Linked DNA regions of Homo sapiens: regions 2, 3 and 4 are each linked to region 1. The links come from fine-mapping of genetic effects on gene expression. A gene starts in region 1. Each other region holds a variant in brackets. All regions are shown on one strand. Distances are from middle to middle.

What was found.
Region 2: its variant is fine-mapped to the expression of S1PR3 in blood mononuclear cells (TOPMed, PIP 0.91).
Region 3: its variant is fine-mapped to the expression of S1PR3 in monocytes (Quach 2016, PIP 0.95).
Region 4: its variant is fine-mapped to the expression of S1PR3 in whole blood (INTERVAL, PIP 0.98).

Annotation. Positions count from the first base shown.
Region 1 is chr9:88,986,630-88,994,431 of GRCh38, forward strand. It overlaps S1PR3 (sphingosine-1-phosphate receptor 3), which reads left to right and starts at 4,839. Exons shown (of 2, transcript NM_005226.4): 1 at 4,839-5,066. RefSeq lists a silencer at 4,385-4,679.
Region 2 is chr9:88,911,102-88,918,903 of GRCh38, forward strand. The region is part of intron 3 of LOC124902205 (a long non-coding RNA gene); the gene reads left to right. Among named protein-coding and RNA genes, the nearest start is that of S1PR3, 76 kb to the right of the region's middle. The variant A/C (reference allele first, on the strand shown) is at 4,157.
Region 3 is chr9:88,920,130-88,927,931 of GRCh38, forward strand. LOC124902205 (a long non-coding RNA gene) reads left to right here. Exons shown (of 4, transcript XR_007061654.1): 4 at 3,364-7,802. Among named protein-coding and RNA genes, the nearest start is that of S1PR3, 67 kb to the right of the region's middle. The variant A/AT (reference allele first, on the strand shown) is at 2,780.
Region 4 is chr9:88,949,159-88,956,960 of GRCh38, forward strand. No RefSeq gene overlaps it. Among named protein-coding and RNA genes, the nearest start is that of S1PR3, 38 kb to the right of the region's middle. The variant G/C (reference allele first, on the strand shown) is at 3,762.

The DNA of each region.
Region 1 (7,802 bases):
TCAACATGGTGAAACCCCGTCTCTATTAAAAAATACAAAAATTAGCCAGGCACAGTGGTGGGCGCCTGTAATCCCAGCTACTCAGGAGGCTGAGGCAGGAGAATTGCTTGAACCCAGGAGGCGGAGGTTGCAGTGAGCTGAGATTACACCATTGCACTCCAGCCTGGGCAACAGAGCAAGCCTCCGTCTTAAAAAAAAAAAAAAGGAACAATTCCTGAAGCTTCTGATGATTTCTGGCTGACCATGAGGTTGGAAGTGGGAACACATTAAGGGCTTAATGATGGGACACAGTGATGTAACCACTGTGGAGCCACAATTGAAGTGCTGAGATTCAGCATTGGAAGACATCTCTGTCACCAAATGAACACGCCTCCCTAAAGAGCTCTGGCAGTGAGTCAAAGGCTTCATTTGGGTCAAGACAGAGTTATTATACAAAAAGCCAAGTTTCATTCTACAAATCCACATCGGGGTCAATATTTTAAAGTGATTTCCCCCAAGTTCTGTGTAGAGCAAGCTGACAGAGAAGAAATGGCTCTGAGATATCTGGCAAGGTGCAGATGGACTGACCACAAGCCGCTTATCCCCACTGTAGCTCCGGGCTCCCTTCTGCCACAGTGGCCATATCTGTGAGGTTCTGCCCTTTCCCTGGGGCCACTGCATCAGTCAGGGCTCTCCAGAGAAACGGAATCCACAGGAGGTATACCTATAGCATACACAAAGGCTTTATTATAAGGAATTGGCCCATGCAATTATGGAAGCTGACACATCCAATGTCTATAGGTCCAAGGTCCCAGTTCCAGTCCTAAGAGGATTCTCCTAGTTAGAGACTTCTCTCTAACTAGGGAGAGTGTTGGCTTTTTGTCTTCAATAACAGTCTACTCAGGCCCTCAACTAATTGGGTGAGGCTCACCCACACTAGGAAGGGCCATCTGCTCTCCTCAGTCTACTGACTCACTTGTCAATCTCATCCAGAAACCCCCTCACAGACACATTCAGAATAATGTTTGACCACATATCTGGGCACCCCATGCCCCAGTCAAGTTCACACATACAATTAACCATCATAACTATCTGTTAGACCCCACCTTGCAGGGGGCAGTCCTCCTCTGGAAACCTTCAGGACTTGAAGTGTCAAGCTCATGTGTGCAAACTGTGACCAACACACATTTTCCTGAGAAGAGGCCTCAGACAAACAAAAAAATATCATGCATGCACATTTACTCAGATAATGACTGTCTGTTGCAGCCTTTACGCTAAACAGAGCTAAGAGTAGAGATAGTGCAGATTAACTCAGACCCAGAAACTTGGGGAGGCACCCTGGGATCCTGGAAGCAGATGCTGGGAGGGCAGAGGGGACCGAGAAAGGAGGTGCATTTACTCAGCTCTTCTGAGACAATTCTGCTCTCCTGCGGTGCACTCGTTCTGCTGGAGAAAGGGCTCACTTTGAGTTTGAATCTTAAAACTGCATGTCCTTTAACCACACTGTACCTGCTCACCAGGCTGTGGACACTAAATTGTTGGGAAAGTGAATATATTTCATTTTTTTAATTAAAAAAGCATGTAAGGTTATATTACATAATTGTGATATATAATACATTTATTCAAATCATATTTAAGTTTGGGGCCACATGATTTTCAAAAGTATACAGATATAACTCATAGTATCTTTCAATTTTATTCCCATAAGCCTAGATTTGATTTAAAGTCTAAGCGCAAAGGTAGAGAAATTTTTTAGTTGTTTAGTACCTGCCATTTTATTTTTCTCCAACTTTTTATTATGGAAAAAGTTCAAAGATACAAAGAAGGAGAACAGATTGTACAACCCCTTCCCTAAATCCACCACGTAGAACCAATAATCACCAACCTTTTGTCATATCAGCTTATGTGCACGTACTGTGCTGAACAATTTAAAATAAGTTTTAGACATGAAGACATTTTACCCTTTAATACTTCAGCAGCACCTCCTAAAATTAAAGCCATTCTCCTAAACAAACATTATGCCATTATCACACCTAAAAACATTAACAATAATTCTATACTATCAGTCAATATCCCCTCCAATTTGTAATTTCCTCCAAAATGTTTTTGTGTGCGTGTGTGTGTGCTGATTTGTCCAGCTGGGAGTCAATCCGGATTTGTACTTATTGTTATACTTCTTCTTTTCAGCTGTTCTTATACCAGAAGAATCCTTCACCCCTTTTTCTTGACATTGATTTTTTTTGGAAGAGCTCAGGACTGCAGAATGCCCACACTCTGGTAGTCCAGTTTTTCCCATGGTGTCATTTAACTCATGGCTCAAACTCTTCCATTTCCTGTAAACTTGCAGTAAAGTCTAGAGGCTTTGCAATTGATTCAATTGAAGCATCTTTGGCAAGCACACAGCAACAATGATGTTGTGTGTTTCTTTTGCATCACATAATGCCAGGTTGAGCCAGTATTAGTGACACTGAGTTTGATCTTCCTGTAAGGTACAGCCAGATGTCTCCATAAAAAAATGGAAAATGGAAAACCTTTTTCTTTTTTTTTTCCAATTAGCACCCGTTCGCCTGCACACTTTCACCTAAGGGTTTGACACCCACTAGTGCACACTGCCTGATTTAATTATTTCATTAAGGGTTACAGAATGGGGATTTCCTCATTCTCGCATTTCTACGTTTATGAGCTGGCATTCTTCTGTTAAACTGCTTTCACTTGTGAAACAGGATGCAGAGGAGGAGACTTATTCAACAGAATTGTAGGGAGGGCTGTTTCTCTCAAAAGGAGTGGTGAGAGAAGATGGTCTCTACCGGGGCATGGAGGGCTCCTTGTCAGAGTCTAGTGTCTGAGCTTTAAGGCCCAGGAAGAGGGCAGCAGATGGGGGTGGGGCAGTGGGTGAGTGAGAGGCCCGTGTGTGGGGAGACCCACTGAGGACAGGGATCTTTAGGCAAACGGAGCCTCACTGAAAGAGGAATTTCAGTGATGCCATGGGTCAGATCCTGGGTCTCTCTTAGGGAAACCTGCCATAAAGCATGAGAGCCACATTACTCCTCAGGGCTTCTGGGCTCCGATTCCGCAGACTAGTTTTGGAGGCATCACCACGCCTCAAGGTTGCTCTGTTATATCAGGGTAACTGACTTTCTCTAGGAACGGAGACTTGGGTGCCCCTTAAAACAACCCTCAGCCAGTATCCTAGCAGTAAATTTTTCATCACGGGAAGCAACTAATTGAACAGAGGTGTGATGAACCTACTGACCACTTTGGTAATATAGACACAGTGGCCACAGTATGCTGTATTGTTATCCTGGTTGTGACCAATGCCAAAGGAGCATGTTTCCTTCTTTTCTTGACTTGATGCTGTAGGAGTCCAACAAAGGGAAGCACATTCAGGCCCACATGAAACTTGGGACAGAAGTGGCTTCTCAGAGCCGTGCACCAGGCACTTTGAACAAGTTGGAAGGCTACAGTGCCGGAAGACTCCACAGTAGCACAGGCGAAGTGGCTTAGGCGAAAACGCTGGGAAGTACCCCAGCTCCCGGGGGCCAGAGCCTCTAGGGCTGGCAGCCTCAGCAGGCAGAGTCACTTGCCTCCTTCAGCTCAATTGCTGAGGGCTTGCGTTTCTCTGCAGGGAACAGGAGTGCCGCCGACTTCCACTCTTGGTGCCCTTCACCGCTCAAACTGCACCCCAAATAAGCGTATGCACCCTGCTCCAAGAGAAGGATGCGCTGGGCTGATCCTCTGGAGGCAAGAGGGCAAAAGACAGAAAGTAACGAGCGGCCTTTGCACAAACTCAACTCTCTGCAGCGGCCCCTGCGGCCCAATCCTGCCGGCCCAGGAATGCACGGTCGGATAACAGGCCTCTCCTTGCTTTTTCGTCTTCTTCCTCCCGCTTCTCTCCTCTCTCCTTTTCCTCCTCCTCCTTTTTCTTTAATTTTCTCCTTTCTCCCCAAGCTTCTACAGTTGTTTCTGTGTTCGCTCAATCATGGCCTTTGGCATTGATTGAAAATTTGGCAGTTCCTTCTCTCGGAATTCTGTTTGAAGCCTTCATATGGATTTATTATTATTATTATTATTTTTGCCACACAAAAGGGGCAAATCCGCGTGAGGAAGGGGGTCGCATGGGGGTCGGCTGAGATCTGCTGGCTGCCGGTCTAGGAGGGGCGCTGCTCTGTGCCGGAGTGGGCTCTGGTGCACCAGCAGAGGCTGGGGGAGAGTGCTGCCCCCGCCTGGAGCCCAAGTCTCTGCGTGCCTGGGGGTAGAGCGCGGAGAGGGACCAGGCAGGCGCCGGAGGGGACCCGCGCGGAAAAGGAAGAAGCCCAAACAAAAACGCTGTCCGGCGCCAGGCGCCCACCTGCAAGCCCAAGCCGGTGCTCGGCCAGTTACAAAAGAAATGGTCAGGATCTGGACAACGATAATGATAGTATTAATCCTCCTATTAAGAATCGGCCCAAACAAACCCTCGCTGTCAGGGCGACAGGCGCCCGCCCAAGCCCAGACCTCGGACCTGGTTCCAAGCCTGTTCCCGCTGGGTCTCTGGGCGCCCGGTTTCTGCACCTGGAGCTCGCCCGATGAGGACAAGGTCTGGAGGCCGGCCTGGGAACAGGGGCCGAAGGGCGAGCCGGACCCTAGGGGATTGGTAGGGTCGGGGAGAAGGGGTCCAGGCTAGGGGCGGGCGGGGCGCACGGAGACCAGGCGGCTTGAGCGGGAGGTGGGGAGCTGGAGGAGTGCCGGGTTCGCGGGCGGGGGACGGGGAGAGGGGGGCGGGGAGAGGGGCGGGAGTCGGGGGCGGCGAGGGGAGGGGCGGAGCGCGGGTCCCGCCCCGGCGGGCCGCTGGAAAAGTTTAGTCTCTGACTCGCTCGGGCAGAGGCCGAGGAAGCCGGTTCCGGGGACGGGCAACAGGGACTCAGGGACCAGAAGGCGGCTGCAGGACGCGACCGAGCAGGACCCCAGGCCCGGGAACGACGTCGCGAGCGCTGAGACTGCCGGGCCTCCCAGCCCATCTGGCATTCGAGCGCAGGACCGGGCGCCCCGGCACCGCCGCGCGCCACCCGCTAGGATGCCGGTGGCCCCAGCGCCCTCAGCCGACGGAGGTGAGAGGCGGGCCCGGGCGGGGCGCGGAACCAGGGTGGGGGGCTGGGGGCCGAAGGACCCACCTTTCCAACAAAATCCCCACCGATCCCGGGCGCGACGGGGACTTGGGCGCGCCACGGCGGCCGGAGCGCTCCACATCAGCACCCCTCCCCCAGAGCCGCTGCAGGAACAGGGAGGAGGCCTTTTCCACCGCACCCGGAGCGTTTACAACGGGCTGGAGCTGAATACCTGGATGAAAGTGGAGAGGCTGTTCGTGGAGAAGTTCCATCAGTCGTTTTCCTTGGACAATTAACAAGTTAGGCTTCCACAGTGCCAGGGCCTGGGGATGCTGGACGTGGGAGAGGGTTGTGGTCGTTAGCCTGGGAAAATCATTCTTTTAAACAATATTCGCCGGAAAATTAGTTTTTTCCTAACATTTCTCAAACAAGGCAATTAGGGCCGTCAGAATCGGTGCTGGAAGACGAAGTCCCCACAGTGCAATAATGAGGTTCCCACGGAAAATCAGTACGTTGTGTTCGTAACTGAGATAACAGCTAGAGAAGGGGCTTTGGGCTTTTTGAGTCTCCCAATAGTCAGTCTCTCTCTCTCTCTCTCTCTCTCTCTTCCTCTGACTTTCTGGCTTTGGACACTCCCAATGGTATATTTCTTTGTGGTGTTTTTATATTTGGATATAAGAGAGGAACTTCTTGTTGGATTTTTAAGGGAACACACTTCGTTTTGACCCTTCCAATAAGGAAAGGGGAGCTACAGGAACAGAGAGCTCTTTAGAAGGTTACTTTTAAATGGAGGCCCCCCCATTCATGGTACCCACTCCCACTTGGACCTCTGAGACCTCCAGAATTAGGCATCATTCTAAAATCTGGACATTAGAAGTCACAGACTTTGTATATAACCACATATTCATAATTTATCTTTTCAATGTTTTTTATTCATAGATGAAAATCTTGCAGGCATAGTTAAGAAAAATATAATTCCTAGAAAGTACAAGGGAAGGATTATGCTCTGCAGATACATGACTAACAAGGATAGCTGGCCATGCCCAGGGCTGGTGTTGGTTGAGGAGGTGGTGATGGTGCGGGGCATGTGTGTGTGTGTGTGTGTGTGCGCTTGAGGAGTTGTGGAAGTGTTCATATCTGTAAAGTATTATTTCATGGATGCAGACCTTAATGCTAGGTTGAATAACTTTGTTGCCATAGAAGAAGAACCGCACGTCAGGCTTTTTTCATTAGCAAACCAGTAAGCACTCACTTTGGGCCTCTGAAATCACTTCCATCACCTAACACCAGAGATACAAACTGAAGCTAGCCCTTAAGAGCCTCCCCCTAAGATTTAGAGAGAATGATTTCTCAACCAGTTTTCATCTTTGAAAGTGCCATTTCTCCCTTTATCATTGTGATTTTTATTCAAATGCATGAGTCTCTGATTTTCTACCATATACAAAGGGTAGAGACTACAGTTTCCTATAGAAGAAACTTCACATAGTGGCCGAAGGATCTTATTTCTCAAAATTCAGGAACTGGTTTCCTCTTTCTGGAAATTATGACATTAACTTGATTTCATGGTATCTCTTTCATCTTCCTCAATGCCTGTGCTGTATGTATATTTTTATTATATACTGTAGGTATATTTTTATTACCAAAAAAAGGAGAATTTGAGCATGCCACAATCTTGAAAAATCTGAGGTTGCCCTGCTGTAGAACCCTTTAACTGCCAGGACTTTGTACTGTTTCCCAAGTGTTACCAGAGCCAGGCCGCCAGCCTTATGCAGTCTGTTTACCTTAGCTGGAACCAGGGTGCTGTGCTGTGGGTTCTATGAAACTTTCTGTTTCTTCATATTTGGCTTTGTAATTCCTTTCTTATCAGTTTTGGAGGCATTTCCTATTATTCCTCTGCCATATGTTTTCTGCCAAATTAATTGCCTTAAGATTTTCCTTAAGCTTTTGGAAATGTATAATGTTTGAGAAAAAAGAAAAAGAATAGACTGAGTGGAATCGTATCTAGTTTCAGTTAATAACATGTTTCAGTTGATGTTACTGTTATAGCTACTGGGCATAAAGTCTCCTTCCCTTTTTTGAATCCTATTTTTGAGGCATTGAAGCTGTGTCTGTAAGAGACAATAGGCCAGTTGGGTTAAATCAGTGACGAGATTGTCCAGTGCAGATTGGTGCCCAGTGAGTGGATCTTCACTGCTCACAGGCCGGACTGGGGTCAGCTCACACAGCGAGGTGACGGTCCGCTCCTCAAGCAGTGGATGGTGCTCTTCGGCCTTGCAGATGCCGCTCCATTTTCCTGGCTTCAAAATTTTCCAGATATTTCAGTGCCCCCAGAATGACATGCTAACATTCTGCTGGCATGGGAGCATGAGGCAGTTTGTCTCTAAAACATGCCAGAGAATCTCTTGTCACTACCTAGGCAAAGAACCAGTGGCAAGGTGGCAGCCTCCCAAAGAGCTCATCCCTAATGTGACATCCTGGAATCAGATGGCACGGACACCGGCCCAGCCCCTTCCCAGCTCTGTGACTAAGGACAAGTGACACCCCCCCTCCCCCAGCCTCGGTCTCCTCCTGTGTACATTCAGAAGGCAGATGCTGCCATGAGGCCATGTGTGCTATGTCCATGGTGCAAGGTGGCACGCATGCCGAGTCACCAGGTGAGACTGCCGCTTTGGGAAGGGATAGGAAGGATCTCCGGTAGCCTTCGTGGGCAGGATGCCTCTTATTTGAATGTGCCTTTAG
Region 2 (7,802 bases), 76 kb before region 1:
CTGGCCAGGGCTATCAGGCAGGAGAAAGAAATAAAGGGTATTCAATTAGGAAAAGAGGAAGTCAAATTGTCCCTGTTTGCAGATGACATGATTGTATATTTAGAAAACCCCATCGTCTCAGGTTTTGTTCTTATTATTTAAATATATTTAAAAGATAATTAACTGTTTAAACAGAAATAATAACAATGTTCTGTGGTGTCTTCAGTGTATGTAAAAGTAAAATATATGACAATAATAGAACAAAGTTGGGGAGAAGAAAAATATAAATATACTATTTTTAGGTTCTCATATGATATGGAAGTGGTATAATAGCACCTAAAAGATGTATATAAAAATTATAGCAACCACTAGAATAACAAAACAAAACAAAAGCCAACAAGGGACATAAAATGAACATTTAGCAAATAATTACGGTTAAAGAATTATAATAGTCAAAATTAATATATTAATCCAAAAGATGGTTTAAAAAATAAGAGAAAAGGGAAAAAAGAACAAAGGGGCAAACAGAAAATAAATACCAAGATGATCATATTCATATCAACAACCATATTAATAATCACATGAAAGTAAATAGTCTAAATACTTCAAATAAAAAGGCAGAGATTGTCTAATTGGTTGCAAAAGCAAGACCCAACTATATGCTGGCCATAGAAAATACATAATTAGGAAATACATGTTAACATTAATCAAATAAAGCTGGAGCTACTACATTAATATCAGACAAATTAGACTTTAAACAAAGGAAATAAGCAGAAATAGATAAAGAGATTTCATGACAAAAAGATTAATTTATCAAGAGGAAATAACAATCCTAAATATCAACAAAAACAAAACAATTGAAGCAAAAACTGATATAACTGCAAGGAAAAATATATAATTGTATAGTTATAGACAGAGAATTTAGTAACCCTCTCTCAATAATTGATAAAACAGGTGAACAAAAACTCAGTAAGGAATAGAGTATTTAAACACCATTAACTAATTTGACTTAGTTGATATTTATAGAACACTCCACCCAATAATAACATAGTGTACATTATTTTCAACTGTACACATAATATTTACCAAGATAACTCAAATTTGGTGCCATTAAACCAGCCTCAAAAAGTATACAATATTCCAAGTCATACAAAGTTTGTGCTCTACTCACAATGAAATTACATTAAAAATTAGTAACAGAAAAATCTCTAGAAAATCCCTCAAACATGGAAACTAAACAACACATTTCTAAATAAGCCATTAGTCAAAGAAGAAATTAGAAGGGAAATTAGGCACTGTTTTAAAGTGAACGAAAATTAAAACATAACAAATAAAAATTTATTAGATTATCACTAAAGCATTTGGGGGAAATTTGGAGCACAAAACATTGATATTAGAAAATGAAGTTCTCAAATGTTAAGACCTCAGCTTCCACCTTAACAGTACAAAAAAAAAAAAAAAAAAAGATCAACTTAAACACAAGGTAAGTATAAGAAAGGAAGTAAAAATGGTCAGAATGGAGGTTAATAAAATAGAAAGCAGAAAGACAATAGAAAAAATCAATAAAGCCAAAAGCTGTTTCTTTAAGATCAATAAAATTGATAGACATTTAGCAAGATTGATCAGAAAATAAATCATAAATCACCAAAATCAGAAAAGCAAAGTGGCATCAGAATCAAAAGATAATGGTAGGAAAATAAGATAATATTATGAACAGTTCTATGTGAATTAATTTGTCAACATCAATGAAATGTACAAAGCCTTTGAAAAACCACAAACTACAAATGCTTACTGAAGAAGAAATTGATGATCTGAATAACTCTAAATTAAATAAATTGAATTTGTAATTAAAAATCTTCTCACACACACAACCTCCATTCCCAGGTAGCTTCACTAGTATGTTCTACGAAACATTAAAGAGAGAATGAGTTCTGAGTCTACAAAAATTCTTCCAGAAAATTAAAAAGGAGGATATCCTTTCCAACACTTTCTGAGGCCAGCATTACTCAGACCCCGGATCCTGACAAATTTATTAGACAAAAAAAGTGGAGACTAATATCTCTCATGAACATAAATGCAAAAAAATCTAAACAAAATTTTTGTATTCTAGCTGACAGTATATCAAAAGCAGTAGATATTGTGACCAAGTGGGGTTTACCACAAGTGTGTAAGGTTGGCTTAACTTTAAGATCTTAATCACTATAATTCATCCTATTAAGAAACTAAAAAAGAAAAACTTGTATCATCTCCTTAATAGACACAAACATGTATTTGATAATATTCAACATATACTTGACATAAAAGCTCTCATCAAACAAGGACCAGAAGGGCATCTACCAAAAACCCACAGATGACATCATACTCAGTGGTAAATGACAAAATGCTTTCCTCCTGAAGATTAGAAAAAACACATTTCTATTCAACCTGGAGGAGGTTCTCACAAGTACAATCAGGCAAAAGAAGGAAATTAAAGGCATTTATATTGGAAAGGAAAAAGTAGAACCTTTTATTTGCATATGACATGATCATCTTTGTAGAAATGAAATGGAATCTACAAAGAAAGCTAATACAACTAACAGGTGAGGTTAGCAAGTTTCCAGTATAGAAGATTAATATACAGAAATCAATAGTATGTCTATGTACTCACAACAAACTATTAGAAATTGAAAATTAAATAACATTTACTTTAGCATAAAAATAAGATACCTAGGAATTAGTCTGCTTCAAAGGAGTAAAACATCTGTGTACTGAAAACCGTAAAATGGTGTTGATAACAAGTAAAGATCTAAATGGAGGAAAAAATATACTATGTTCATAAGTTGGAAGACTCAATATTGTTAAGATGTCAGTTCTCCACAAATTGATCTATAGGATCAGTGCAATCCAAATAGAAATTCCAGTAGGCTTTTAAAAAAATTTGATAACTAAATCTAGAATTTACAAAATTCATACAGAAATTCAAAGTGCCTACAATAGTCAAAACAACTTAAAAAAATAAAAACAAATTTGGAGAATGAATATTATCTTATTACTAGATCTATGAAAAGCCTACAGTAATCAAGATAGTGTTGTTTTGGTGAAAATACAGGCAAAACAATTAATGGAGTGTAGTAGAAAGTCCACAAATAAAGCCACACTATATGAACATCTAATTTTTGACCAAGTTTCAAAGGCAACTTGATGGAGAAATAATAGCCTTTTCATTAAATGATACTGCAACAATTGTGCATCCATAGGTAAAATGATGACTCCATGCTGTGTGATTCAAACTATAGGACATTCTGGAAAATGTGAAACTAGGGAGACAGTAAAAAGGCAGTGGTTGCTAAGGAATGGGGGAAGGGAGAGAGGGATAAGTAGATGGAGCACTGAGGATTTTAAGGGCAGTGAAACTACTCTGTATGATACTGTAATGGTAGATTCACGTCATTGTACATTTGTCCAAACCCATGGACTATACAGCGCCAAGAGTGAACCCTAATGTCATCTATGGCCTTGGGTTAATAGTGATGTTTGCATGTTCATCACCTGTAACAAAAGGGCCACTCTGGAGTGGGATGTTGATAGTGGGGGAGGCTGTGCATATGGTTGAGGGGGTGGGGAGTATATGAGAACTCTTTGTGCCTTCCTCTCAATTTTGCTGTGAACCTAAAACTGCTCTAAAAAATAAAGCCTATTAATAAAAAGAAATAAAAAAAGATGTTTAGAAATAAAAAGTACCCCTATACCTGTTACCCCTGCTCTCTGGCTTCCTCTGATGGAAACAGAAAGCGGCTTGGTCTGGTGAGGGGTTTGAGCCTCTGTAGAAACTAGGAGCTGCAGCTGAGATATTTGCCTCCTCAACTTCTGCCCTCTGCGCACTGTGGAGTGAGTGAGGAGAGGGTGCTCCTTTTCCTGTGGGCATGCAGCTCTGTGAGGGTTCTCCGGCCTTTTTGTCTTTTTCTTCAGCAGGATTTCCACATCTGATGTTTATTTTACAACCGTGTCTTGTTTTTCAGGTTGCCATGAACAGAAGCAAAATAGTAGGTATAAAAAATGTCTTTAGATCTGCAGAAGAAAGCCACCCTATAAACCCAAGGCATTATTACCAGCAATAAAATGATTCAGGACATTCATCTCCTATTTGTCCACTTTCCAAAAAGAACCTTTTCTTTCTTTTGCTGACTTCTCTACATCT[A/C]TTTCCTCCCACCTGCTCTAGAAAAGTAAATATCTGGTTTCAATTATTTATGGGACGTAGAGTTATTTTTGTTCCAATGGGGTCTCAGAGATTTCTCACATTTTAAACAATTTTGTAGCTTCCCAGGTAGAAATAAAGGAGGCCTGGGACCTATTGCCTCACTTTCTCATTTTCTCAAGATTCAAGGCACCACGTGGTACTCTGACTTCTGTAATTACTCTATTGGGCTCTCCATCCGATTGGAATGTTTTCCAAGGAAAGAGAACTAGATTTTTCTAATCTGATTTTAGCTATTTTAAAACAACTTTTAACCAGTCTGGCTATGGACTAATTCCTAGTATTTCAGGTTTATTATGGGAGATAAATCACTGTAGCCTTGGAAACTGGTCATGGAGTTGGGGGTCCGGGACTGACACTGTTTTTGGCTGCTACATGTGTGGGAGCTTAGAGATTCCACCTGGCAACCTGCCCAGGGGACGCATTCTGGGCTCACCCTGGTGTGGGCTCTGAATTCCACAGAGCTCAGGTCTCAGGCAAATGCCCCTGGACTCAGCACCCTTGGGCCCTGGCAAAGAACCTGGGCTCTTTTCACTGCAGAAGAGCAGCTGAACTAGCTTTTATCAGAGGAGGATATTTTTGATAGTGTTAAACAGTTTGCTATAGTATTTACTTCCAAGCTGAGACACCGACAGAGCTGGGAGGCATGAGATGTGTTTTCTGGGCAGACCGGTTTCCTCATTAAATTGGGGATAATCATACTTTCTTTTTGAACTTCACTGGTGAACCTGGCAAATGTTAGAGGTGGGTGGACTCTGAGGCCATCTGTGCAATATGATTTCTCTGCAAGGAGTAGGTCAGCTGGCAGATAATAAGGTAGCTTCTGTCACTCCAGATTGTTTTTTTCAGGTTAGGCTGTGTAAACAAATGTGAACCTGAGGAGTCCTTTGTGGTGGATCTGGAGTGGCTAATAGGCCTAGATTTAAAATAGTAGCCATTTCCTGATTAGAGGTACTCTGAATTTCCCCAAAACCCACACTGCAGTTCCCCTTTGGGACTTTCAGGACTCATCTGAACCAACCGATCAGAACTTACCTGCAATTCACCAATCAAACTCAGCTGCAATCCACCAATCAGAACTAAGCAAGTTTCAATCCTTCACTTGCATAAACAGATCCGACTGGGAACCTGGGTGGAACCCTTTTTTGCTATGAAACCCAAACCCTTCCCTTGTTCTCTGGAAGGCAGTTTTGCTTTACTCTGAAGGCCTGCATCTCCCCATTTTGCAGGGGATAATCTACTTCTTGCTCTTTTGCTTACCCAAGATAGCTTATACTTTGGTATATAAGATCTCTTCTGAGACACACAACAATCATTTAGGATTGATAATGTAGATATTGTAATTTCCAGAGTAGACGGGTGGGGAGGTGTCACCTTGCAGGTGGTAAAGTTCCTCCCAGGTGCACAGGCTGGTGGATAATGGAAGGAGGGAGGAGCTCTCCCTTTTCCTAAAGCTGTTTGGAAGAGGTTCTCCGCATTCTTCTGCAAGTAAAATTTAGTCTCAAGGCTATAGTGATCTCCATTTATCTAAAATAAAATGACATAATAGATTAATACATATTCCTTATAGAAAAGTAACAAAATGTAGATACAAAAACACATCATATCTCCACATAAGCTCTGCTGTGGGAGTGTGTATAATAGTGTACATGTTATTGCTTTTTTGCATATGTATAAGTGATTTTAATATAAAAAGCTGTAGCTTACCTTAGTGTTCAATAATTTCCACTCCCTGCCAGGGTGTCCAAGGGAGAGAACACAGTCATGGGTTCTTAGTTTCTGTTTCTGATTGGGCTGGTAAAGCCCCTTCCTCGTCCCTCTTTTCCACTTATCACTAGAGACAGAAACTAAAAACCATGGCTTCATACTGCTAAAAGCCTAAAACAAAACAGAACAGAACAACAACAAAATAAAGCAAGTTGGACAAGGTTGCCTTAAAGAAAGCCCTAAAATCATTGAGCATCTGGAGAAAAAGCCTTGGACATTCAAACTGACTCCACTGGTCAATTAAAGTTCAAAGTAATGCCAAATTTTAAACTCAATCTCGAGGTATTTCAACAAACAGAAACTTGGCACAGTGGAGACCCCAAGGGCACCCAAGTCTTTGCCCCAGGAGCCTAGAGCCTGATGTGGTGAGAAGGAGGCTGAGGGTGGAAGCATACAGGAGCTGGCACTTACTGTGTGTTTTCTTGTTCTTTCCCCTCTGTGTAGACACAGAACGCAGGGATCAAAGGTTGCCCAGGGAATGAGTGGCAGAGGCACACTTCCAGCCCAAGCCTGCTGCCACCAGGCCCATGACACAGCAAGGAACAGGGCTGTGGAGGCAGGGGAGGCCACAGAGCTTGGGGCCCACCACTCCAGAAGGTGAGCCGCAGGTGCTCCTACACAGACAAACCCAGAACCATCTTCCCATACGATCAATGCTGAAAAGAGGCAGTCAGCTTCCAGACCCACCCACAAACTTTTTTTCCCACCTCACATCAGATGTGGGAATGGTAGTACAGTTCTCCCAGTAACCATCTGTGTGGCCAGCCTAGGAAAGCAACCACAGGGACAATTATGTCTTCAATGAGATGGGACCCAAGCTCCAAACAACAAACTTGGAAACAAGCCTTTGAAACCCAGTACATTGGGAGGCAGAGGCTGGGACTGACACACACACAATACTAGATTGGTTATGGGTCACTCACCCCTCCCTCCTTCATGAACAACGCTCACCCTGCTCTGTGTTGACTCCAATGGGGTACAAAGATGGAAGTGAAGATATGAGTAGGAGTAGCCTCATGTCCCCAATGGCCACCCCTCTCAGGATCCGAGCCTTTGGGTGATCCCCTCTCTTTGAATCTGGGCTGGGCTTGGGACCTGTTTTCAATGGAAGGTGGCAGAAATAATGTAGTGCTACTTCCAGAATAAACCCTAGGAAGACCTGGCAGCCCAAGCCATGTGCTTTTGGGGGTCCCTGAACCATGCTGTATAAAGCACAGCTCCCTGGTGGAGACACCCTGCAGAGAGACAATGAAGAGAAGATTCATCTAGAGGAAGAAGCCAGGACTGCACAGAGAGAGGGAGACACCCACCCAAAAATCCAGTGGTGCAGTCAAATCTTAGAGCTCCAAAATAATTTCCTTTGACTCCATGTCTCACATCCAGGTCATGTTGATGCAAGAGGTGTGTTCCCATGGTCTTAGGAAGCTCTGCCCTGTGGCTTTGCAGGGTATATATCTCCCTCCTGGCTGCTTTCATGGGATGGTGTTGAGTGTTTGCAGCTTTTCCAGGTGCATGGTGCAAGCTGTTGGTGGAGCTACCATTCTGGGGACTGAAGGATAGTGGCCCTCGTCTCAAAGCTCCACTAGGCAGTGCCCCAGTAGGGACTCTGTGTGGGAGCTGTGACCCCACATTTCCTTTCTGTACTGCCCTAGCAGAGGTTCTCCATGAGGGCCCCACCCCTGCAGCAAACTTCTGCCAGGGCATCCAGGTGTTTCCATTCATCATCTGAAATCTGGGTGGAGGTTCCCAAACCTCAATTCTTGACTTCCATGCACTCACAGGCTCAATGCCATGTGGAAGCTGCCAAGGCTTGGGGCTTGCA
Region 3 (7,802 bases), 66 kb before region 1:
CACTCAGGAGCTTCATAGATGGCACCCACTGCCAAGTTCTGCAATACTTTATGAATGTGTTTGTACAGAGCAGGCCATCTCCAGAGTACATCTAGTCTTTCAGAAATGGTTGCTTGCATTATTTTTATTTCTAAGCCTTATTTCTTGCATTTTTTTCACCTCATGAACCATGCTCTCCTTGTTCTCATGCTACTAAGAAACCTGTGCAGTCCTGGGCATCCAAAGCTTAACAGATTTCCAGGATTCTGTTTGGATCTCTGGGAAATTCTGGGGCCATCCTGGAATAAAGCTGGTGTGTTTTGAAAAGTCCAGACATTTTCATCAGAGTTGTTCTACCAGTTATAAACCCCATGGCAGGTGTGATCATGTGTACCATTGATCAAGAAACCTGGGCTGGGAAGGGATAAGGGTCTGCCAAAGTCCTATGTGGAGGATGAAGGGCCAGCAAGTGACCTGACCTCACTTAAGGCTGTGACTCATGAATAGACCACCCTGACAGGAAGGCATTGCTGAGAAGAGGGCCACTCCTCTCCTAACTGACAAAGAGAAATCCCATGTTAGAACAGTCCAAAATGCTCCAGTACAGTTAAGAAATTGGTGAGGCTGAACTTGACACCCTTAGCTTCACCTCCTCATGCATTGCTGGAGGCCCCATATCCTGGTATTCCTGTTTCCAAAGACCCAGCCCTGCTTTCCAGCATCTCATTACCTCCACCTGGTGGGGCCTGTCAGTGTACCACAGGTCTACCTTGATTTCAAGTCCATCTCCTAATAATGAAGTAAAATGTTTTTCCCTGCATTGAAGAAATTTCCAGTGTCTTGGATGGGGGAGCTTAAGGAGCAGATGCTCATTCTTGGGGTATGGAGGTGATAACTTGTAGGCAGACTGTTCCTAGGAACACACGTAAGCTTGGCCCTTTCAGCCACTGGAAGGTAAGTCCAAAGATTCAAGAGGGAAAGGTGGCTGGTTGTGTCTGGCAGAAGGAGGGACACAGTGGAATAATTCTGCAAGTGTCACAGGGAGCCAGTCTCTGAGATGGCAGAGATAGGTTGGCCATCACTTTAGTGGGAAAAGGAGCATGTCTTTTCAAAGCTTCAAATGGGCCACATTTTTAAAAAGCATCAATTAACCTTCTACACACACACACACACACACACACACACACACACACATCTGAAAGGTGTAGAACTTTCATCAGCAGCAAAAGAGGAATGTTATTGGGAAGGTATACATTCCCAGCAAATTCTTAGCAGATGTGCTGGAGCCAACTTCCCAACTGTAGGGTCTACTCCACTGCAAAGTTTATTTGTATGAATCAGAAAATGATGATGCAGAGGAGGGTGATAATGTAAGGATCAAAATTTGATAATAGTTTTTAATAGGAAGAAAATAGCCTCAAGACTCTAGAGATTCTGTGGAATTCAGTTGCTTTATTAGAGCAAAGAGTTCTCCTTTGGGTGGCATAATAGGAGACTGGCTGCTTAGGAACTTAGTCCCTCACATGGTCTAAGGACAGTGCATGTGAAATACTCCAGCATCTTGTTAAAATGCAGAGTCTTATTCAGTGGGTCTGGGGTGGGACCTAAGATTCTGCATATCTAAAAGGCTCCCGGGCGATCCCTGTGCTGAAGGTCTGCAAACTGTGTTTTCAGCACCAAAGTTAACATTGAACCCCCAAAGTGACCACGGACTGATGGCCTCAGATCATCCAGGCCCACCGATGTACTAAGCACAATGGGCATTGTAACAGCATCTGCCACCTGTTTGAGGGGCCAGCTAGGGATTAGTGGGCATGGGGAGGGCCTAGGAGCCTAAACATTTACAAATATCCAGAAAATGATACACACACAAGTGAAAGGAAGAAGGGTGTGGATACAGGTTAGGACTTCAGCCTATGAATTCTGAAAGGACACAATTCAACCCATCAAACCCGAAAGATGGGGCTTGGGGACAGCCTGGAGCTATTGAATGATGCAAGCTATAAAAAATTCTAGAAAGGATCTGCCCTGTGTGTGCCTGGAGGCTCTGCGGGCACCATTTGCACAGTCAAACTCCTTCCCTCTCCGCTGCTGCAGCAAAACTAATGAACCACAAGAGCTGACTGGGTGGAAGCAGTAAACGACCTCCAGGCAAACACAGTGCCTGAGCCTTGATCTTTGAGGTTTAGCTGCAATGTTATAGGCCAGAAAGTTCACAAGCGAGAGCCCTGAAGATGCACAGCACGTGAGACCGCAATAACCACGGCCTTGTTTCCATCTGCAGAGACGTGAGGGTTCGTTGGCCCCACCCGCTTTGATGTTCTTTTCTTCTGTCTCACACCTGTTTGACCATCTCTTAAATAGGAACATTTTAAAACCAAATTAAAAATTCCATTTTCTGATACATTGTCTCATTTGAATCCAATTTACTAAACATATAATATGCTTTTTCCAATCTTATACTAAAATAATAAAGTGGGGCTCTATGAGAATGCATATCTTTCGTCAACTCAAAGGAAGAACTGAAAACTAACATTTTATTTCAAGGAAACATGCTTAAATGGCTCATTTGATTACTTTTATGTACACATGATACCTCAAAGTCAGATGCCTCAAATCTCAGTGTTCAGATAATCTCCTAAATGAAGATGTATAAAAAGAGCTACTTTTTCTATTTTTAGCTGTGCCTAAAGGATTTTCTTGTCTCTCAGATATTCTCATTTGCTTTGGTTATTCCCCTTTTCTTCTTCTTTCTCCTGTGTGGTTTTGCTTTATGTTTTTAACTTTCTCTGATTTTCAG[A/AT]TTTTTTTTTATTTTCTAGGTTTCTTACCTTTGCCTTTTCTGTCTATTCTTATTTTCACTTTCTTCCAACAAAACACCCACTAAAATTCAGAGCAGGATGGGTCTTTTCTCTTTCTCTCTCTCTCTCTTTTTTTTCAGTCTTTTAGTGTGCTCTCCCTCGTTGGATTATAAATGCTTATATACCTGTCTACATGTGGTCCATGCAGTGACAGAATTTTAGGAAATTAGGAAGTGTGGGATCTCTGGTCTGAAGGTGGTTTTAAGACATAGTCGTACACATGGCATCACCCACTGCTGACCACAGTTGCTAATCTTGGGGACCACAGCAGCCTGAGTTCTGAACCCTTGCCTTTTCTGCACTGTAGCTTTCAGGCTCATTGGTGCCACCCCAGCTTCATAGCACACAGGATGAGAGAGAACACTTCACCTGCAAGACTCTGGTTGATGAAGCCATTTTTCCTCCAGGTGTTCCCAGGCATGTGTTTAAGTGTGTTCCTCATCTGCTCACACAGAGCTCGAAGCAGGCATGCTCCTCTCCTCTTCTCCTTCAGATACTTCACCACTTTCTGCTTTTCTCTCCTCAGCTGTCTGCAGAGAACAGACTTCTTCACCCTCAGGAACCTCACTGCAGCCCTACATCTCTGCGGCTGGACGTCCCCATTGATCACAGACCAAGGCCAGGATGTGCTCCATATGTCTTTCCCTTTCTGCTGTTTTCTAGGCCCGAGGAGTTGACCGTGTGAGTCCTGGCTTGTCAATGGTGCAGCGGGGGCTGCAGCGACTCTGGCTCTGTGGCTTCACTGTGCCTGTGGGTGGCCGACGAAGCCATCATCTTGAGTGCATGGTGCCACCAATGCGTGTGGCAATCAGACAGGAAATGACATGGCTATATTGAAGGCCAGCCTCCGGCACTGTGGCTTCACTGTGCCTGCGGGTGGCCGATGAGGCCATCGTCTGAGTGCACAGTGTCACCAGTGGATGTGGCAATCAGACAGGAAATGACATGGCTATACCAAGGGCCAGCCGTGTCTATGCTGCCTTCAGACAGTTGGGTCAACCCTTGCCAGGGTCCAGACTCAGTCTCTGAAAAGGTCCCCCTTCCTCAATGCTCCTAAGACTGAAGCACCTACCTGGAGCTCACTGGGCCACTCACATGGGTTTCCGTGGCTATGCTACACGGGAAGCCAAGTCATAGTCAGAAGCCACTTGACTGATTGTGAAAAAAATGGCTTTCAACAAGACCAGGAATAAGCACAGCACATGTTCTCTGTTTAGACAGCCAAGAGTGGTTAATCTACTTGCCCAGGACGGGCCAGCTGGAGCTGCAGAGGAATGAACCCAGAGCCTGTGCTCCAGGCAGGCACACACACGGCCTCTGGGGTGGGGGTCGGGGGGACTTGGGGCTGGGAGCCACACACGCAACCTCTGGGGGGTCACACACATGACCTCCGAGGAGCTTCCCATGCTAGTCTTGCACAAATCCCTAAGAGTTATTTCCAGGGTATCATATGCTGATACCCTGGAAACACATGTTAAAAGCTGATGATGGTTACTTAGCGGGGTGTCTGGGCCTTTTTTGGTCAGAAACAAGAACTAGAAAGGATGAATCTGAAATTCAGAGAAAGTACTGTAGGACAGTGGTCCCCAACTTTTTTGGCAGCAGGGACCGGTTTCATGGAAGACAATTTTTCCACAGCCGGTGGGAGTAGTGGGGATGATTTTAGGATGGAACTGTTCCACCTTGGATCATCAGGCAATAGTTAGATTCTCATAAGGAGCACACAACCTAGATCCCTCGCATGCACAGTTCACAATAGGGTTCATGCTCCTATGAAAATCTTTTGCTGCTGCTGATCTGACAGGAGGCAAAGCTCAGGTGGTAATGCTTGCTTGCCCAATGCTCACCTCTTGCTGTGTGACCTGCTTCCTAACAGGCCCCAGACAATCCTGGTCTGTAGCTGGGGGTTGGGGACTCCTGCTGTAGAAGAATGAGCAGTTGCAACCAGCTCCACAGCTGAGTAGCTGCCATCACCAGCCTGGAGGGTCAGGCTGCCTCACAGGCCCTTCACTCCATTATTGGGCAAATGGAAAGGACTCATTCGGGCTGTCTCCTGGGGGAAAGGTCATAACGTGTGGCGCAGGAGCTTGTGTCTCTGATAGGCTGCACACTCCTTCCATGACTGATGGTCAGCGTGGGGAATGCTCCACAGGTTTTTTGAGTATGAGAGCCCACAAGTATTTTAGTTTATGAAGAATGTTCATACATGTCATTTCATTCATGGGTGAACTCAAACTCGAAGGACACAGAGGCAGTAAACGCCAGGTGGACTCCACATCAGGGGCCGACCAGGGTCCCAAGCCCAGTGATCTCATAAACCCCCAAAAGCGGGCCTCCGCCCCTGGGCTCTGGTAGATGGCACTGGTAGCATACTCTCCACCCCTTCCTGGCCAGTGGCACCCACTGCCTGCCTTCATGCAGGAGAGAGAGCCTCATTCAGGTCTTCAACAAGCCAGCTTTTATTTTTATTTCAGATTTAAGCCAATTCTTGTCAAGATCAATAGCATCTTGGTCAATAGAATTATTTGAAACCCTTAAGATACATAACTTTAAGTAGCCTTTGGAATAATGCACTTTAGAAATATTTTCAAAGGCATTTGACTGGAACAGCAAGGGGGTTACTCTCACTGGAGAATCCTTTCAGGGAGATGATTCGGCAGTTCAGAGTCATTTGGGCAAGCGATTCATTCTCAGCAGACCACAAATATCCCCCAGCCCTTCCTCCATCTGTGTCCCAAAACTAACAAGCCTGTTCTTCTCTTGGGAAACATTAATCTGACTAATGGCCTCAATCCCCATCTCATACCCTTCCTGGGAAGACTGGATCATCATTAACAAACCCCAAATCTTCCAGAACCTCCCTATGACTGACCAACACTCATGTCCCGACGTATGGACTACTTCCTCACGTGCCCCCCAACTCTGTTTCTCTTGCTCCCAATAGATCAGCTCTCCCCTTGGCTGGAGGCAAGTGGACTGTGCAGGGGACACTCCCTGGCAGCACCAACCCGCCTGCTGCCCAGATGCCCCTCACACCCTGCAGGGCCACGCTGCCAAAGGCCATGGCTTCCTGGTGACAGCAGTACTCCTGGAAACATTGTAAATCAACCCCACAGCCTTTCCCAGCATCTTTCCTGGGCAGAGGAGGAAAGAGCCCTGCTGTGAACAGTGTGGTCATGGGCCAGGTGTCCAGGAACAAGAGAAGTCACCCGCATGCTTGCATTCCACAGAGGGCAGTTTCACTGGCCCTGGGTCTGCTATCTGTCACACAGGTGGCACTGGATTTCAGAGTTTCTGAGGGGCGTTTTCTTTTGTTCTTACCCCTACCAAACACTATCTATGCAGGTCAAATCCATAGCATCTGTGGGCCCCTCATTTGAGGACTGCCTAAGCTCATTCTCAAAAAAAAAAATAAATAAATAAAATGAAAACCATCAAGCAGGCAGAGACGATGAAAACCATTGCTTCAGAGTGTGTCTGCCTCAGTCCTGTCTCCTGGGGGACAGGGGTGTGTAGAGAGTATGGCCACTGAGCCTGGACAGGAGCTGTGGGGTGGGTCTGCAAGCTGCGTGTCAGCAGTTGAGGTGAGGAATGGTACAGAATGAAGACTGTCTGTGAGTCCCCTGAAACTCACACCATCATTTCAGGTCTTCATACACACGAAATAATCCATGAGATAACTTTTCCAAATTAACTGCAAGAAGTCTTTAAGAGGTTGTGGGGGAACTTTTTACAGGAGCATACGATGGGAAATGTTTTGAGGGAGTCTTATTTCCCCCAAGACTATTAGAATTTTAAACACACAGGTCTCTCAGCAGGCTACCTCTGCTCTAAAATGCTGAAAATTCTATAAATTCTCAATGAGCTGTTATAAAGAGATTGTGCCATACCTGTTTAAAACTAGTGTACCTTATTCTGAAGGGCTTAAAATGTTGAGAGGGAGAGCTTAATGAGGAAAGAGAGAGGAACAAGAGAGAAAAAGAGAAATTGGCTCCTTTAAGAAGTTTCTGGCAGAAAATCAGCTTTAAAAATAAGTTGCTCAACTCAAGAAAAAAAATTCTCTGCAGAATGAACAACTGTAAGGGGAGAGAGAGAGATGGGGGCTAGGCAGAATTCCGGATGGCTCCTGGGGTCTCCCACTGGTGTGTTCCCCCATGTGATTGCCTCCCCTTGAGTGTGGGAAGGACCTGTGACCCTCCCAATGGGATCTGGCAAGGTGATGGGCTGTCCCTTGCGAGATGAAGTTGCTGTATGTGTATATACCGTACAAGGTTTTGTCTTGCTGCGTACACAGGGAGACACTGTCGTGGCCCTTGAGGAAGCAAATGCCATCTTGTAACCAAGGACAGGGCCATGTGGGGTGGCTGGGAAATGCAGAAGGCCTTGGGCTTCAATCCTGCTATCACAAAGAGCCACATTCTGCCAGCAGCCAGAGAGCTTGGAAGGGAACCCCAAGTTTCAGATAAGGACATGGCCTGATTGGACCCCAACCTTGCAAGTTCCTTGGCAGAGGACTCAGGTGAGCCATGCCCAGACTTCTGACTCCTGGATACCATGAGATAATAGATGGGTAGTTGTGTGAGTGGGTGTGTTTAAAAAATAGCTGTATTTTACACACATACGATTCACCCATTAAAAGTATACAATCCAACATACTATAGTGTAATATATTCACAGAGTTATGAAATCGTCAACACTATCTAATTTTAGAACACTTTCACTTCTCTTAAAAGAACCCCAGTCCTCATTAGCTGACTCCATATTTCGCTTTCTTTCCTGCCCAGCCCTAAGTAACCACAAACCTAGTTTCTGTCACCATAGACTTGTCTATTTTGGACATTTTATATTAATGGAATCATATAATATGAGGTCTTTAGTGACTACATACTTTCACTTACCATATTGTTTTCAAGGTTCATCCATGTTGTAGCATGTATTATGGCTTCATTCCTTTTTTATGGATGA
Region 4 (7,802 bases), 37 kb before region 1:
TTCATCAGAAATAATGATGAGAAGATTCGAATGCTCTCAAAGCCATTCCTACAGAGCCAGCCTCCTCTCTCAGGCTGTGATATTGTCTCTTATGGGTGAAGGTTTGGGTGCGGGAAAATTGAATTAGATGAAGAATATTAGCATCTCCATAAAATGAAATTTGCCAGAGAAGAATTCTTGAGTTTATGGAAAGGAAAACAGGGGAAGTTATAATGGGGTGCTGACACAATGTTGGTGCTGTTCTGAGTGTGTGTGTTCTGCAGTGGAGCCACATGCAGAACGCTGAAAGTCCCGATGGCCTGACAGCCGGGAGACATCCCTTCTGGAAACGTGCCAACTCCTCAACCAAGATGGAGCATCACTTCCTGAGAGGCTTTTGTTTCAGTCTCCCCCATGCTGGCAGGTTATTGTTCAGCATCTGGAATCTGACCCTGGAGACAGAGGCGCCGTTTATTTTCAGACTCAGCTAATCACCAAGGCCCACACCCGCCTGATGGGGAAAGTGCAAAGGTGGGAGAGACTGTTCCCAGAATAGAAGCGTTTGCTGCTAGTCCTTCCAGAAACGTTGCCAAGTACAGAGCTGAATGCAGACTGGATTTCTTCAACAGCTTCACCTACACTCCACAAATCTCTTGTCACTTCTTTCCCCAGTGCTCATATAAATACACCATGTATTTTATAATGTGTATATGAATTCCCCAAGAGAAATCTAGTTCAAACTTTCATATTGCAAACATGCCTGGCCAACACTTTGGCACTCTGTGCACCCGAGTGTGTCCATGTTAAAATGCCTACTATTAAGGGATTACTTTGCCCCCTTTCAATTTTATAGATATGCAAACTTGAGTGTGAAGTGGCATGTCCAAATTAGTGCCAGCTCATTAGGCCAATAAAAGCTGGGAATCAATCTCATTACTGTTTTTGCCCAGTTCTGAAGAAGCTTCCAGCCACCAACCTGGTGACTCAACTAGCAACTGAGAATCTTCATGCATCATCCACACCCAGTGGGGCTGTTTACACACTCCTGCCTCCACCACAAGGCCCTGCAGTCACACCTTCATCACACTCCAGCCAAACACCCAAACGAAGAGGGTCACAGATCTCTTTGAAACTTTGATGAAAGCAACCAAAAGCAAAGGCATTTGCTCACAGAAGCATTTGGCATACTTGCCCTAGAATGGCCAGTGGCATCTTCTCAGCCAAGCTTAGCAGCTGGAGCTGCCCCTTCCTCCCCAACCAGAGCCGCTCCATGACCTGACTCTGCTCAAGAGATGTGCCCTGTTCCCAGAGAGGCTCAGGCTTTCCAGCAAAGTCCGCAGGGCTGCCTGCAGCCCCTGCTTAGGGTTGGGCTGGCCCCCTCCTCCACTCACTACTTCATGCACAGCTATAATCCCCTGGGCCATGAGAGCTTGTTCACACATCTTCATTGTTCATGTCTTTCACAATAGCATAGTTGTGAAACAGTCCTGTATAAACACATCACAGACAAAGGCAAACAAGACAAAAACAGTTTCAAAAACTTTCACTTAAATGTGCTCACTGTCATAAGTTTAAAATTATTGAAAACATCATGAATTTAAAAGCCCAGGAAAACGAAGACTCGTCTATTATTTTGCCTGCAAGAAGCACACACCAGTGAGATCGTCCAGTGTGAGTCAGAGTATTTAAGGAGTAGCTCTTCAAACACTTCGATTTTTATCCCCATTGTTTTTAAGAATGGAGAGAAATGGATTGCGGTAAAAAGACGTCACTGTCCACTAAAAGTCAAAATACTGCATTTAAACTCTTCACGGCAGGCACGGATTACTTAGAATACTTTTTGTGAGGTAAACACCATGGCAGAAAATTAATGAGTCATACTAGCTAGGGATAACAAACATGGCTTGATTAGCTGCAGATAGTGAGAATTTCATTCCTCATGCATTAAGGGCTAGTTTCCTAGAGAGGAGGATCAAACAGAAACCAGTAAAAGTCCTTGGGTTGTGAGTTACAGACCTGGCCTCTGGGAGATGGGCTCTGGGCAGATGCAGAATGGCTTTTGACCTGCTTTGTGTTACATAGAAAAATGTGTGTTTGGAGGATGGTCAAATCAAGACCTCAGTTTAATGATTTCACCTCATGGGCACTGTTGTGTGGTCATTGCCTCATGCTGTGATCCATGCATTGTGTGTGTGTGCATGTGTGTGTATCTGTGCATGTGCACATGTGATTGTGAATGCATGTGCAGACATGTGTGTACATGTGCATGTCCTTGAGCAGATACATGCATCCAACGCAGTTTAACAATGTCTCCCACCTAACACTTCTCCAGATAGCTGCACAGTTGTGTTGCTCCCATGGTGTCACTGATGTGATGGTTAACTTTATGTGGTGGCTTGGCTAGACTATGGTGCCCACATGTTTGGTCAAACACCTGCTGTATTTTTAAGAGTTGATTAACATTTCAACCAGTAGATTTTGAGTGAAGCAGGTTCCTTTCTGTAATGTGGGTGGATCTCATGCAGTCAGTTGAAGGCCTTAGGGGAAAACCGACCTCTCCCTAGGAGGAGGGAATTCTGCCCCCAGACTGCCTTTGCCTTTGGACTCCAGCTGAAGCATCAAGTCTTCCACTCTTCCCTGGTCTCCAACCTGCTGGCCTGCCCTGCAGATTTTGTACTTGTCAGCCTTCACTATCACATGAGCCAGTTCCTTAAAATAAATCAGTATCTCTGTCTACACACACACACACACACACACACACACACACACACACACGCATCCTATTGGTTCTGCTCCTCTAGAGGACCCTGACTAATACCCAGCACCTTTCTATGGGTAGAAGTCAAGCAATGTTGCCAGCAGTGATATTTGGCCAACTTCATGGTCATCATGAAGACCATCATGGGAGGGTCATCACCTTGTTCCTGGCCTGTGCTATGATGCATGGGGCTTGCTTTCTGGGGTCTGCTAGTGAGAGAAGGAGCCCTGGGAGCTGAGACGAGGCCTTCATCACCCAGCCTTGGAGAAGGAGGTCAGAGAAAGTTTCTGGCAGGAGACAAGCCAGCTTGGAAAGAGACAGAGAGATGGGATGCCTTCTGGTTTCCCTGGAAAATGGGCATCAAAATGGTGGTGGAACAAGGCCACCAATTCTGGTGTTGGCAAACATGAGCTGAATTTCCCCATGGCAAACATGAGCTGAATACAGCTGGTCTGTATTGGTGCAAAACGTATTATTCTTTATTGCAGTGGTTCTCATACAGCTGAATCCCCTGGGGGACTTTTAAAAATGCCCTACCCCAGAGACTCTGACTCAGCAGATCTAGGGTGGGATCCAAGAATTTGCAATTCTTAGCTGATGCTGGCCCTGCTGATCCTGGGGCCACACTTTGAGAGCCATTGTCCTATCAGGATAAATTTTTAAGCACCCATGGTCCTCATAGATTGGGGATTGGGTGAACCATCACAGGCCATTGCATTGCTTGATGGTACTCAGAACCCAAAAGAGGGGCACCCAAGAAAAGATCGGGTTGTTAGTGCCAGCCTTTCATAGAAAAGAGCAGGAAGGCACAAGCAAGCTCCTTCTCATTTCCCGCTGTCTTCACCACCACACCAGGATGGAGTGGGCATGGAGTACAAAGGAATCCCTCAGCTCTCCCACCAGGGTGAGGTTGCACAATAAAGTATCCATTCCTTTGTCCCCCCAAAAAACATAAGAAGCTCTTGCTTCTCAGGGCATTGTGCATACACCACCTGGGAATATTAATTTAAAACACAAATAAAAA[G/C]CTACTCCTAAGACCACCAAATTCAAAGTTTGGGAGCCAGAGCCTGAGAACCTGCATTTAACAGCGCCCCATTCACATCAAGCAGACTGAAGTTGTGACCCAGCCCTATTCAGCCTCCTCCTGGTGGGTCTGGTGCCCACAGTTCCCCTCCACTCTGCACCAGGCTGCTGCACACATCCCTTCAATGCACCAGCCACTCTGCTCAGGGCAGCTCTCACCTCACCTGGCCCCTCTAAGGGATGCCCTGTAAGCCCACAGTGCTGAGTCAGTGGGATCAGTGGGCATCGGGAGATAGGGACCTGCCTGCAGAGGACAGAGGTGCCCTGGACAGTGTGGTGGGGGCCACACAAGAGCAGCCCTTGAGGGTAGATACACCACCCAGTTCCACACTCATAACTAACCACTTTCATCTGGTGAGTCGGGAACAGTGGGAGCAAATTGTGTCGCTCAGTGTTCAGCTTCACCCACAGATTAACCACAACATTAGGGACCCACAGTCCGTCATCTGCTACACATCAGAGGGAATGAGGGATGTGAGTCCTGCCCAGCGATGTCTCATTCTGACTTCGTGGGATTTCTGGCCTCTGTCAGAACAGGAAACAGGCTTGTGTTGCATTAAGGATGCTGCCCTTGCTGCGTGGACTCTTTAGGAAGGAATGAGAGCAATTTCCCCAGAGTGGGGCAGTTCCAGGTCTGGCCCTCCTTTCTCCCAGGGGCAGGAATCGGCCTTTGTGCTTAGGGAAAATGGACACTGGGCCTTGTGCTTGGAGCTTCTACTAAACTCATCTGAGAACTAAACTCTGCCCAGAAAGTTGAACAATGGACCTTCTGTGTTAGAGAGTTTGAAAGTGAAAGTGGTCATAGAGTTGAATTTTTGGAGACAACATTCTGGCTCCCTGGGAGACAGGGATTAAAGCCTGGGTAGTGTACCACCCTCAGGGGCCTTGCCAGGGCAGCTGGGTCCCAGGGCTGACATCTGAGGAGCTGCGCTCTGAGTGGGAAGGGAGAGTTCCCCTGGTCCATCTCCACCAGGGCAGAGAGCTGACTGCATGGGAGACTCCAGCTCCTGCAGGTGCCAGCCATGGATAGCCACATCCTGTGGCCCCTAGGAAGCAGCCACAACAGCTGCAACCTGGCTGAGCTGGGAGGGCTCTTCCCAATGGAGAACAAAAGCCTGGTAGACACATCTTCAGGACTACAGAAGAGATGCTCTTGAGGTAAAAGCATCCTCCATAGGAAGGGACCACAGCCCCTCAAAGTTAGTGATGATGGCTTCCTGCCAAATTTGGCTAGTAGTGCCTCAAGCCAACTCTAATTAAATGCAAGCAAAGAAAGAATGTGGTATTACTCTCAGGCTGTCGGGTAGCACACCACATATTCTGGTGATTCAGCTTCCTCAACCACATGCAGGAAGACAAGGCTCTGAGAAGCTGACAGGAGTCCAGAGGTGAGGACGCTGGAAGGCAGGTGGGCTCATGATCTGGAGCTGCTGTAACTAATGACCAGGGGCCTAAAACAACAGGACTCTATTCTCATTGCTCAGGAAGCCAGAAGTCCAAAATCAAGGAGTCAGCAATGTTGGTTCCTCCTGGAGGCTCACAGTGGAATTTATTCCATGCCTCTCTCCTCCACCCCTGGTGCTGCCAGCAACCCTTGGCTTGGAGGCACCTCACTCCCATCGCTCCCTGCATTGTCACATGCCTTCTTTCTCTGTGTCTCTCCTCTTCTCATAAGGACACTGGTCATATTGGATCAGGGCTCACCCTACTCAACTCCAATTAAGCCCAAGAAAAGAAGGAAATATGCCATTACCGCACACAAGTACCCCACACTTCAGGGATGTTTGGGAAGGATGATGTACCTTGGAACTCCTCCAGAAGCTCTATATCAGTGCAACTGGAGGTGACTTTTGCCCTCTGGGGGCACATGGCAACCTCTGGAGATGTTTTTGTTTGTCACAACTGGGAGGAGATGCCTCTACTGGCAACTAAAGGGTCCAGGCCAGGGATGCTGCTCAACCTCCTGCTGCACCCAGGACAGCCCCACAGGAGAGAATTCTCCAGCCCAAAATGTCAATAGTGCCAAGGATAGAAAACTCCACTCTAGATGATTTTTTAAAACTGGGTGTTTTCTTAATTCAATTAAAAAGATTTCCCAAACATGCCACCCTTCCCCCTGTCTCCACATTTATGGAAGCTCTAGCCCACCACAAGCGACACTTCCCTGCTCTAGGCGCTGAAGTCTTGTGTCTTAGTTTGGGTTTTTCCGAAAGCAGACACTAAGAAAAGTTTTGTTGCAGTGGTTTATTTGGAAGATGATTCTAGGAAGCACTTCCAGGGGAGAGAGGAAGTGAACCAGGGAAGGGAGGAGAACCAAGGAAGGGTGTGTTGATGAGGTGCTGTGGACATGTGGGGCTCAGGACTCAGTCCTGCTGAGGACCCCGGTAGGTCATCTTCAGTACTAGCCTCTCAAGGAGCAGGGGAGATGGTTTCACTGTCAGTGTCTCTTTGATAAAAGCTGATCCTGGGCATTGACTCCCCAGCCCTTCTGGGGCCCAGAGATGCCCTGAGGTTAGAGGCTGGGCCCGTTCAGGGGCTGTTTGAGGGAGGCCACTGGAGAGGCCAAGGGGGTAAAGGCCAGGAGTGGTCGACAGCCCCCACAGCTGACCTACCCAAGCAATGTGAGCTGGAATCCCCCTGAGCAAACCTCTACGCCACAGCATCACATCACACTGCAATGATCACTGTTCTCTCTAAACTCCTTAAAAGCAGTGTTCTTGTCATTAAGCTTCGTGTTCCCAGACCCTGACACCTGCTAAGCTTCAAAAAATACCTATAACGGAGAAACATATCAGTTACTCAGTTTTCACTGCCCCTTGTGGTTTGCCAACATAATGAGAAATATACCCATACAAGAGCCAATTAGCCAGTGCACTCAAAAATAGTATTTGCAAATGCCCTCTGTGCTCAGCATTGATCCAGACGGACAGGAAGACAAAAAAGAAAAGAGCTTGATCTCCACCCAAGAGCCTGGGTTTATTGACTGCAAAGACTCAACCCCACATCTGCCAGCCTGAGAAAGCAGCCAGCCCTGGCTAGAGCAGCGAGTGTTCTCTAGCTCAGTGGTCCCCAGCTTTTTTGGCACCAAGGACCAGTTTTGTGGAAGACAATTTTTCCACGGAGGGTGCGTGGGGTGGGGGGATTTGGTTTCTGGATGAAACTGTTCCCCCTCAGATCATCAGGCATTACATTCTCAGAGGATGCTCACAGCCTAGATCTGTCACATGTGCAGTTCATAATAGGGTTCATGCTCCTGTGAGAATCTAATGCTGCTGCTGAGGTGAAGCTCAGGTGGTAATGCTCCCTCACCCACTGCTCACCTCCTGCTGTACGACCCAGTTCCTAACAGGCCATGGACCAGTACCAGTTTGTGGCCCAGGGGTTGGGGAACCTTGCTCTAGCTGAACTCTGCTGCTCTTTGCACAGAAGTCACTAGCAGGAAATCAAAATCATAGGGATTCCAAAGATCCTGAGCCATCATCCCTTCTACCTCTGTCTTCCCCCTCAGCTGTAACATTTTATTGTGTTTTCAAACATATAGAAAAGCCAAAATAATTCTACAGTGAGCACCAACAGACCCAACCCCCAGATCCTACCATCCAGATTTTACCCTGGTCACCTTCCCCCAGGTGTCTCTGCACATGCACCTGCCATCCACCCAACTATTCCTCCCTCTGTCTTAAGGTTCAACCACAGATGTCAAAGGCAGTGAAAGCAGGCAAGGAGATTTGAAAAAAACTGACCTTTTTTGAGAAAACTTCCCTGCAGGTCACATGGTGTGGATGTATAAGTTATAAATTTCTTAAAACGTTTTCCAGAGCCAACCACAGCCAAGCCATTCTCGTGTCCACCCTCAAAGCCCTTGAGGGTTTGTCCTACCAGTGAGAACATTATAGGCAGCATGGTTCTAGCAGAACCTTGTTTCCTGACTTTCAGGCTTGTAGAGGTTGGTGGGAAAATGAGGTGCCTTCCTGCTGTGGAC